Regions from separate parts of the Homo sapiens genome. Here all the other regions are linked to region 1. Evidence: fine-mapped expression QTL. A gene starts in region 1. Each other region holds a variant in brackets. All regions are shown on one strand. Distances are from middle to middle.

Region 1 (2,688 bases):
ATTATTCTTCAATCTTACCCATTTATTAATGTATTCAGCAAACATTCATGGAGTGCCTACTATGTGCCAGGCATTGTCTTGCCCACTTTGTAAATTTGAAAATTATGTTCAGACAAGATGAGCCATATAGCTTTTTCTTTCTGAGACAGGGCCTGGCTCTGTATCCCAGGCTGGAGTGCAATGGCACGATCACAGCTCACTACAACGTCCAACTCCTGGGTTCAAGCGATCCTCCCCTTCAGCCTCCCAAGTAGCTGAGACTACAGGCGTGTACCACCATTCCCGGCCCAGAAGCTTACTTTAAGTCAAGCAATGGCTGGAAGGCTCTATGTCTGGGCCACTAATCACGTTTGATCACTTGTATCCCAGTGAAGAAAACTCACTGCTAAGCACTTCTGCGAGCAATAGTTGAACTCATTAGAGACGGATAGGTCAATCAGGGAAATAAACAAACCTGCTTCGCTCCCTCGGAGAACTCTGTGATGCTGAACTCTTTGTCGAAATAGGCCCAGATAAGGAAGGCCTTAATTCGAGTCCTAACCCAGTTGATGGGGTTGGAGAATCCCAGGACGATCATCTTGGTTTTCTGGTGCTGCTGGGGCTTCTCCTCCGTGCTGTAGCTGCGCTGAGGGCAGGCAGGGAAAGAAGCGAAGGCTGCGGGGAGTCCCGGGCTGCTGAGCACTGGCCACCGGGAGCCCTGGGCAGGTAGCGCCGAGGCTGCCAAGGCCCTAGCGCTTCGTGGAAATAACGCCGCTCCCAAGCCGAGGCGACAGCGGCAGAAGTAGCAAAGTGTGGCCGACGGCAGCCTCACCTCGGCCACAGCAGGAGTCCGGAGTCGGACGGCCCCGCAGGGCAGCGACCGAGAGTGCAGGAACTGGGGTAGCAAACGAGCGGCCAGCGCCATTTTTATGACCCTTCACACCGGTGCCTGCCGGTGCTGTATGGAAAGGAAGTCGGTGGGAAACCGCCTCAGCGGTGTCGGAGAAAGAGACTGGAGAGCAAAGTGGACCTGTTGCTGCAGCCTCTGGTGAGTCGGCCCCGTCCCCGCTCTCCAGCACGCAGCCCAGGCCGAGGCCCTTCGGCAACCCGCCCCGCGCTCGGACCCAGCCACTCTGGAGTCTGCCGGCCTCGCGGACCTTTTCTCTGTCGCTCGTGTTTCCGGGCGGATGGCGCTGAGGAACGCTTTAGAGCCGAAGTTCCGAAGACCTGGAAGAGGGCAGGCGTGAGCAACCATGGCCGGGCAGCACCTCCCGGTACCCCGGCTGGAGGGCGTTTCTCGGGAGCAGTTCATGCAGCACCTCTACCCACAGGTGAGGCCCTCGCGCGGGGCAGAACCTCGAGAAACCAGCGAGAGACACGTCTTTACCTTTCGGACAGCTGGGAACTGGTTTTTAGAGACCCAGGGTGTGGGAAAGAGGCGCAGGACGGCAGCAGATCACTGGTTGGCCCTTAGACCAAGGGAAAGGTGCACGGGGGACGCCGACTGGCTCCTCTATTGAAATTTCCGGAGAAAGTCCCATGTTTCTGGGGAGCAAGATGATGGCGGAGAGCTGAGTGCGAGAGGTATTTTGCCTAAACTCTTTACTCCGCATCTGTCAGTCTGCTCCGAATTAATGGATTTGAAGGCACAACTTTTCACTCCACTGAGCCAAAAAGGAAAGCAATGGGATTCCCCCGGAAAACTCCTACTCGTCTTGAATTCTAACTTACTTAGGTTCTAGTTCCGACATTGGAGTCTTTTATACCTGTAGTTAGAACCTTAGGTCTTTAAAAGAAAACTCATAGAGAAATATTAGGGAAACAAAAAGTGCTTTTACTTGCAGTGCTTTTCAAGGGAGTCCAGACCTAAGAAAAACAAGGTATTAAAAGGAAAAATCCACAGGATTACAGTAAGTCAGTTTATGGTAGGAAAAATACCCAGCAATTTTCTTACCTGATATTTACATTTATAAGGGTGGTCATAGAATTACAGTTCTGGGGCCGGGCGCGGTGGCTCACGCCTGTAATCCCAGCACTTTGCGAGGCCGAGGCGGACGGATCACCGGAGGTCAGGAGTTCAAGACCAGCCAGTAGAAATCCCATCTCTACTAAAAATACAAAATTAGCCGGGCATGGTGGTGGCCCATACCTGTAATCCCAGCTACTCGGGAGGCTGAGGCAGGAGAATCGCTTGAACCCGGGAGGCGGAGGTTGCAGTGAGCCGAGATCGCGCCACTGCACTCCAGCCTGGGCAACAAGAGCTAAACTCGGTCTCAAACAAACAAACAAAACTACAATTCTGAGTGTTACAAAAGTCGGATGGGCTGGGCGCCGTGGTTCATGCCAGTAATCCTAACATTTTGGGAGGCCCAGGTCGGTGGATCACTTGAGGTCAGGAGTTCAAGACCAGCCTGGCCAATATGGTGAATCCCCGTCTGTACAAAAAATACAAAAATTAGCCGGGCGTGGTGGCGCACGCCTGTATTCCCAGCTACTCTGGAGGCTGAGGTCGGAGGATCTGCTTGAGCCCGGGAGGTCGAGGCTGCAGTGATCCATGATCCTGCCACTGCTCCAGCATGGGCGAGAGGGTGAGACCCTAGCTTAAAAAAAAAAAAGGCGGGGTTGGGGGGATGCGGGAGGAATGAAGTTTTTCTTTTGATAGCAACCTACGGGAGAGGATTCAAGCCTTTATTAGTTTGGAGACTTGTA
Region 2 (2,688 bases), 20 kb before region 1:
AAGACACACAAATGGCCAACAGGCATATGAAAAGGTGCTCAACATCATTAATCATCAGAGAAATGCAAATCAAAACTACAATTAGATACCATCTCACCCCAGTTAAAATGGCGTTTATCCAAAAGTCAGGCAATAACAAATGCTAGCAAGGATGTGGAGAAAAGAGAAGCCTTATACACTGTTGGTGGGACTGTATATTAGTACAACCACTATGGAGAACAGTTTGGAAGTTTTTCAAAAAACTAAAAATCCTACCATAGGATCCAGCAATCCCACCCATAGGTATATACCCAAAAGAAAGGAAATCAGTATATCAAAGAGATATCTACCCTTCCATATTTATTGCAGCAGTATTCACAATAGCCAAGATTTGGAAGCAACCTGTATCCACCAGCAGATGAACAGATAAAGAAAATATGGTACATATATACAATGGAGTACTATTCAGCCATAAAAAAGAATGAGATCCTGTCATTGGTAACAAGATGGATGGAACTAGAGGTCATTATGTTAAGTGAAATAAGCCAGGCACAGAGAAGTAAGTTTTGCATGTTCTCACTTATTTGTGGGAGCTAAAAATTAAAATAATTGAACTCATGGAGATAGAGAGTAGAAGGATGGTTACCAGAGTCTATGAAGGCAGAGATAGGAAAGTGGGGATGTGATAGGAAAGTGGGGATGGTTGGTGGGCACAAAAAAAATAGTTAGAAAGAATGAATAAGATCTAGTATTTGCTAGCACAACAAAATGACTAAAGTAAAAAATAATTTAATTGTACATTTTGAAAACACTAAAGGAGTATAATTGGATTATTTGTAACACAAAGGATAAATGCTTGAGATGATTGATACCTCATTTACCCTGATGTGATTATTATGCATTGCATGCCTGTGTCAAAATGTCTCATGTAATCCATATATTCACCTGCTATGTACCCACAAAAATTAAAAATAAATTAAAAACTTTATGTAAGAATTAGCTTAGCAAGGCCAGGCATGTTGGCTCACACCTGTAATCCCAGCATTTTGGGAGGCCAAGGTGGGTGAATTGCTTCAGTCCAGGAGTTACAGATTAGCCTGGGCAAAATGGTGAAATCCCATCTCTACAAAACAAAACAAAACAAAATGCAAACAATTAGCCAGGTGTGGTGGTGTGTGCCTGTAGTCCCAGCTACTCAGGAGGCTGAGGTGGGAGGA[T/C]CACCTGAGCCTGGGAGATCACCTGAGCCTTGGTGAGCTGTGATTGCACCACTGTACTCCAGCCTCGGTGACAGAGTGAGACCCTATCTCAAAGAAAGAAAAAATAGCTAGGCAATATTTAGGGCTATTTCCAGACCGCAGTTAGAAGCCACCATGGTCTGTCAGTGAAGCTGGGGAAAGCAAGTCTGTCAGCTATTTGGCAGGGTCTGTGTGGCTTCATGACTCAAGTAACCCAATTAGGGCAAATTGCTAGAAGCCTATAGCCAATATTCATTCTCCCCCTCCTCCTCAGTTTTAGGACCTCTAGTTTTATTTGAGGCAACAAAATGTACCCAGCTAAACAACTATATTTCTCAGCCTCACCTTCCCAATTACATGTGACCATATGACTAATTCCTGGCTGATGAAATTAAGTGGAAATGTTTTTTGTGCCTTCTGGGAAAGCATCTTAAAAGACAGCTGATGTATATACCCCTTGCCTGTTCTTTTCTTTCCTCCGTTCTGCTCCATGGAATATGGATATGAGAGCTGGAGCTCTACAAGCCATTTTTTAATATAAGGACACATATCATGCCCTAAAGAAGATAGTTGTGACTAGAAGGAGCCTAGATCTCTGAGGACTCTGTGGAGTTGGCATACAAGCCCCAAAGCATCATATCTCTGAATCTCTATTAGTGTAAGAGGAAACAACTACTTCTATATTATTTAAGCCATAATATTTAAAAGTTTTTGTTTCGTGCAGTTATTTAATAGAAGTAATCCTAAACAGTATGCCAATCATTTGCATAATCTGCCCACATTGTGAAATTAAAATGGCCAATATCAAGTACTCTTACAAGGTCTTATGTAAGTTTCTTAAAATTTGAGATAATGAACAATTTATAATAATATTGACATAACCAATTTTGTTGTTATTGTTGTTTTAGAAACAAGGTTTCACTATGTTGCCCAGACTACTGCTAACCTCAAACTCCCACACTCAAGCAATCCTCCTGCCTCAGCCTTCAGAGTAGCTGGGATTACAGGCGTAAGCCACTGCTTCCTCCTAGGTGACCCCATTAATCTAATGAGTGTGTTAGCACACCTTAGCAGATCTCATCAAATGGAGATAATGGATTCAAGGGCTCTATAGCCTTTCTCACTTAAACTGGTTTAGACATCTGCAATCATTGTTACACTGAACGAGTGATTCTCATCTCCAGACCCCCATAGCAGAGTAGTCAATAATGCTCAGTTAATAATGTGTAACTAAAACACCTGGAAAGTCTCTCTCTTGATCTCTGTGATGTAAAACCGTGTGCTTTTTCTGCATGTGGTAATCATTATTGCATCTCACCAAATACTTCTTACCCTCTGCCTTCCAGGAACATGGCAGATTTGTACTTCCTGGGTCCCTATGGTTGAGTGAGACCATGTTCTGGCGAAATAATTGTATCACTTCCAGGTTCACCCTTCAGAGTTGTCTTTTCCATTTGCTATCATAGCCGGTAGT
Region 3 (2,688 bases), 74 kb before region 1:
GAGGGAGGTGGATAACTTGAGGCCAGGAGTTTGAGACCAGCCTGGCAAACATGGTGAAACCCCGTCTCTACTAAAAATACAAAAATTAGCCAGGCGTGGTGGCACATCCCTGTAACCTCAGCTACTCAGGAGGCTGAGGCGCAAGAATGGCTTAAACTTGGGAGGCAGAGGTTGCAGTGAGCCAAGATCATGCCACTGCACTCCAACCTGGGTGACAGAGTGAGACTCTGTCTCAATAATAATAATAATAATTAGTAAGTTGGTCTAGAGTATACAGCCTGACTCTTTCTTCTAAAATGAATTTGTTTTCTCTCAGGAATGTCCTTAGACTCATTTAACTGGACTCTGGGTGGTCCATTCAACATCTTCCCAGATAGACCCAGACCCAGCATTCCATCTACATGTAGCCCTTGAAATTTTGCTACTGTACTACTCCTTTCTTTTCAGTCAGATTTCTTTTCACTCAGTAATTGGACTGACCCCTTCTCTTTCTCTTTTAAGAGTTGTTGATCACATTTGGAGTTCAATGACACTACTGTTTTGCTTTACTGTTGGAAGTTGGGAGAGACTAATTACTCATTCCTCCTTATTTATCAGTTCCAACCAATTTATAAATAGACTCAAGGAGTCAAGTTAGGAACAAAGTGCAGTACTGGCAAAGTTGATTTGGGTAGCGTGCAGAGATACTCTACCTTTTACTCCAGGTTGAACTTACCCACCACTGAGATTAAAAAGCTGGAAAAACATAGACCTTCTCAGCAGCTGAAAATCTAAGGCAACTATAAAATATCAGGCTGTATAGAGCCGTTCCATCTGAAGTCAAGCAAGTCCAAGAGAAGAAAAACAAGCGAGGCATTTAGCACAAGCCATTGGCACATTAGACCCATCCAGTAGTGACCCAATGAACATCTGCTTCTCACCAATATCCTACTTCAGAATGTTGAGGTATGACCAAGGGGATATGAGGAGTAGGGTCCCCCTCTCCATGTACTCTAGAGCATGTTCATCACCTCCCTTTCTTCCATACCCACTGTCCTTGGCTCAAGGACAAAATCGAGTTTTCAAGAAGACCTAAGGGGTCTTCTGTTCTAAAGGAATAGAAATTTCAGGAGCAGCAATATGGAATTAAACTCCTTCTTTTTGGTTCTCTCCATCTTTCTTTCTTCCTAGGCAGCTGGAGGGTATTTGGGGTTAAGTAAGGGGCTCCTGCTTGAGAAGTTCTTCTCTTGAAGGTCTAATAGACAATGGGGTGGGGCCCAGGAGAAAAAGGGCCTGGAGCTAGCCTTCAG[T/G]CCTGCCTATCTGGACCTTAAGTTAATGGGGGTAAACAGAGTCTGTAAATTTTCCATGTCTGTCCACTCCACCAGGATTAGAAATTAAAGAGACTTGGACCTAAAACATAAGTGAATATTTAAAAGTTAGCATTTGCCAGTAATAATAACTTAGATGGACATGCCTACAGAACCACGTGGAAGCATCCCAGGTAGGCATTCAGAGTAGGAGGAGCCCAGTCATCAACCTGCTTTTCTTGGAGACCAGCATTTGACCACAGATGAGCCTTGTCTAAAGCACATGTGTAAGTTTCCAAATATATCCAGCATTAGCATTAACCCCAACTGTATTATCATAGGATGATGACTTGTTCTTCAGCCAAGATTGTGGGCCATTTTCATCTCTGCACACTCATGTAAAAACAGTGGGGTTTGGACACATGCTTGACTGCTCCTAACACAAATACTAGCCACTATTTTGGAAACCTGACAGTTGCTTTTCAGATTCTTTTCTAGTGGCCTAATGTTACAGTCTTAGAGAAACTTATTAAGGAATGATTACCTCATTTGAGTCTTTAATAGTCTTCAACCTCTTTTTATAGATATTGACTTGCAACTCCCTCATAGAAGTATCATAATATGATTATGTTCCTTAAGTCCAACAGCTGCCCTTTACCATCAAGAAAACTGAGGCCTAGAACATTGGTGCATTACCTTCTTAAAGATCTCAGTTGACTTATCTGATTTATTTCAAATTTCCCCAAGCTATGAAGTTTGGTTCTATTGTGACATTGTTATCTTGGAGTCTACACAAATTTTCATTTTGGATGTGTGAAATTCTGCCTATTAGTCACTTCTTTTGAAAGGTGGAGAGTAGAAAGAAAGGGAGAAGAAGCAAATTTATTGCTGATTATAAATTGAGTCCTGCTTAATAAAATCCATATTCTGGCTTCATAAACTTTCTGCTAAAAGTCCTAATTAGCAGCAGATGGTTTTGAGATTCAGGAGACAAATTTACTTTCCAAATTCCCATTAGAAATTAGTTGGAATCCTTGATTTTTATCTTTTTCTTTTGCTTGTTTGAATTTCTAACTTTTCCATAGAGAACATGAATTACATGAATAATTTAAACTGTTGTATAAAAGCTACTAAATACTGTGAACAAGTTCAAACATTTGAAAATGTTAACCCCATAAGAGGACTGTCTGTATAGAAGAGATGCCCCGCACTGAATCTGAATACAGCCTTGGAATTATTTTTTAAAGTTCTATCATTTGCAGAACTATCATACTGCAGTTATATACTATATACATATAGCTTTAAAGCTAGGTCTGTTGGGCTAATATGGCAGTGTGAATTCATTTTTGAAAAGTCACTGTGCTCCAAACAAATGCAATGGTACAATAATGGATAAAATACA
Region 4 (2,688 bases), 30 kb before region 1:
AGCCAGGCAGTGAGGATCGGTGTGATAATAATAGTGGCTACCATTTATTGTGCACCTACTGTGTACCTAGCATCAGTTATATCGAGAGAGAGAGAAAAAAAACAAGAATTGCAGGGAAAACATGCCCTTTTGAGTGGTGAAAAGAAGCAAGAATAGAGAGCTGAGATCCAATCTAAGATGTGAAAATGGAAGAAATCAGTTTTCTTAGAAAAGAGAAAAATATTTTAAAGTGCTAAAGTATAGTTACATTTATTTTAAATTATTTCATTATGTTTGTATTATGTGATCATACTCTACCATATATATGTGTGTGTATATATATATGTATGTGTGTGTATATATGTGTGTGTGTATATATACATATATATCCATGTAAATGTATTTGTTAAAGTTCTAGAGGGACAGACACCTGCTGATAGCTGTGGTTTCCTCTAGGGAGTGGAGTAACTAAGTGACAGATACTCAAAGGAGACATAACTTACATGATCACGTTCAGTCTGCAGCGAGAAAAGGGGGTGATATCATTGAGGACTTTCTGTTGGCCTCTATTTATGTATTATTTTTATAACTGCATATTCATGTGTATACCAGTAAGAAGAAATACAGCACTTCGATTATTTTATCAGTGAGAATTAGAATTCAATATAAAGAATTTTTAGCTAGAGATTAAAGAATTGACAAGGCAAAAAAGGGGCCACTGAAATGTAGCAGAAATAATAACTGCAGAAAGTAGTCACCACTTCAGGCTGGGGAACAAAGGGAGAAGGTTGGGCTTGTTAGGATCTCAGAGGACAGATTCTGATCTTTGAAAAGCGGGTGTCCGCAGAGGCTGGGAAAACTGCACACTGGAATCAACTGCCTTTGCTGGGGTGAAGGGCTATGGCTGGGAAACCCTAACAGGAACAGGAAGCAACTGGTTCTTTCTCTTCCTTCCACCATGCTGTCTCCCCTTGGCGCCCTCTAATGGAGACAAATGGCTGAGCTTCCTTCTAAGTCCCACGGGCATGTGTGTGGCTTATTGATGAACCTCCCAATTAAGCTGTGCTGCAAACTCTACCGATCTAGGTGGATGACATTAACAAGTTAGCT[C/T]TATCATAGTCATAGGAGTCAGAAGTAGCCCTAAAGAAGTTAGAAATGAACCTGGCGCTTATGTATATAACTAGGTACGTTGGTTTGGTATAGAATACACACAAGACCCCAATTTTTTTTTATTCTATTTGTGGCCCTCTCCACTAATTAACTGGACAATTCTATAGAAACCACATAATGTCTTTCAAAATAACCATAGTAAGAATTAATTCCAGTATAGCACTTAACGATGTGACAGACACTAAGTGTTTTATGTATGTTAACTAATTTAATCCTTGTGACAACTCTACAAGGAGCAGGACTGTTAAGTAACTCATCCAAGGTCACTAATAGTAAGGGGCAGTCCAGGAAGTGGGCCCGACCATCTGATATAGAGATTATCTCTTTATTATCAAGCTTTGCTGCCTCTCACTTACATTGGGCTTATCATATGCCAGGTATGGCTCTACTCCCTTAAAATATAGAACAATCCTCTAAGGTAGGAACCATCATCCCCATTTTACAGATGAGGAAAACAAAGCCTGAAGGGCTATGAAACCCTCTGGCCTCCATTTCTCTGGCTGTTAAGTAAGGAGGCTGGACCAGCAGAAGTAAAAAGCTGGTTCTGTAAGACACTAGGAAAGAGCCCAAGTGTCCTGGCTCAAACACAACTAGAAAGAAAGACTCCCTTTATGTCTTTATAGACCCCCTGACCTCAGAGGATTGATGATAAAACAGTCTTGTATATGAGTACTAAAATTGCCAACTCAACAGAGGTTTTTATTCCCCGCTGTCTATTCTCCTGCCAGGAATTAGATGGGAAATAAAAAAAAGGGAATTAACAGCTTTAAAAAAAATCATTTAGGAAAATCTGTTTCTTGCTGTTGGCAAGTAGCTCTCTGGTCATAGCCGCATCTGAGTATATTCAGACTCCCTTAACATTAAACGGGAGTGTGGGGGTGAGGGATAACACACCCTTTTTATTGCTTTGCTTTTTCCCATTTTTATTTTCTGCTTGACTTTAATAGTTTCAGTCTAACACCAGCCTTTGAAATGGGTTAGTATTGTCACAGTGGAAAGGCCCAGAGCCCAGGGAAGCTGAAGACCTTGCCTGAGGACACCCACCTGGTGAGAACTGAGCTGGGATTTGAACTTGTGATTTTTACCTAAAGTGACAGTATCAGGACTGCCAAGACAAAAATTGATCTTGTGTTAGAAATTCTGTTTTTTAAATAAAAACTTTCCTATCACTGTGTAAGCTTATAACTCTTGACAAGCCAAGGATAGGGACATTGTTAAACTGCCAGCCCCTCAGCCAAGTGAGCTGACATCATTGCATCCCTGACAGACTCATGATAGCAAGTCACAGGCCATCCACGCACCATGCTGATGCCATTTGAGGTCCATAAGTGTTTAACATCCCCAGGACCTACACACCACGTGAGGGAACGGGCATGTGGAATATGGCAGTACCTGCAAGAGCCACAGGAATGGAGTGATTTTATAAGGATGGACACCTGTTTTCTTCGAAATGTTCCTATGCAGCGGGGGAAGAAAGTCCTCCTGGGCAAAAGCAAGTCCTCTCTGTTCTCCACCAACAAATAACTTTACCACACTTTT

Alleles and levels. Positions count from the first base shown, and alleles are read on the strand shown. Sizes are in standard deviations (SD) of each study's normalised expression. Not every link is listed here.
For the expression in monocytes after Pam3CSK4 of the gene that starts at base 1,212 in region 1, allele G in region 3 goes with a lower level than allele T (moderate effect, 0.55 SD a copy in Quach 2016).
For the expression in fibroblasts of the gene that starts at base 1,212 in region 1, T is the high allele of the variant in region 4 and C is the other (small effect, 0.29 SD a copy in GTEx).

Evidence for each region. PIP is the estimated chance that this variant, and not a neighbour inherited with it, causes the effect. A credible set is the group of variants that fine-mapping cannot tell apart.
Region 2: its variant is the best candidate, but not a certain one, in a credible set for the expression of TYW5 in whole blood (INTERVAL, PIP 0.54).
Region 3: its variant is the best candidate, but not a certain one, in a credible set for the expression of TYW5 in monocytes after Pam3CSK4 (Quach 2016, PIP 0.53).
Region 4: its variant is the best candidate, but not a certain one, in a credible set for the expression of TYW5 in fibroblasts (GTEx, PIP 0.53).

What each region holds. Positions count from the first base shown.
Region 1 is chr2:199,954,015-199,956,702 of GRCh38, reverse strand. TYW5 (tRNA-yW synthesizing protein 5) reads left to right here and starts at 1,212. Exons shown (of 8, transcript NM_001039693.3): 1 at 1,212-1,310. The coding sequence starts at 1,233. It overlaps MAIP1 (matrix AAA peptidase interacting protein 1), which reads right to left and starts at 1,121. Exons shown (of 5, transcript NM_001394955.1): 1 at 455-1,121. The coding sequence starts at 904. RefSeq lists enhancers at 689-788, 809-968, 1,139-1,258, 369-1,568.
Region 2 is chr2:199,974,398-199,977,085 of GRCh38, reverse strand. All of the region lies in intron 2 of LOC124906112 (a long non-coding RNA gene), which reads left to right. Among named protein-coding and RNA genes, the nearest start is that of MAIP1, 20 kb to the right of the region's middle. The variant T/C (reference allele first, on the strand shown) is at 1,197.
Region 3 is chr2:200,028,162-200,030,849 of GRCh38, reverse strand. The region is part of intron 1 of LOC124906112 (a long non-coding RNA gene); the gene reads left to right. Among named protein-coding and RNA genes, the nearest start is that of MAIP1, 74 kb to the right of the region's middle. The variant T/G (reference allele first, on the strand shown) is at 1,290.
Region 4 is chr2:199,984,081-199,986,768 of GRCh38, reverse strand. The region is part of intron 2 of LOC124906112 (a long non-coding RNA gene); the gene reads left to right. Among named protein-coding and RNA genes, the nearest start is that of MAIP1, 30 kb to the right of the region's middle. The variant C/T (reference allele first, on the strand shown) is at 1,090.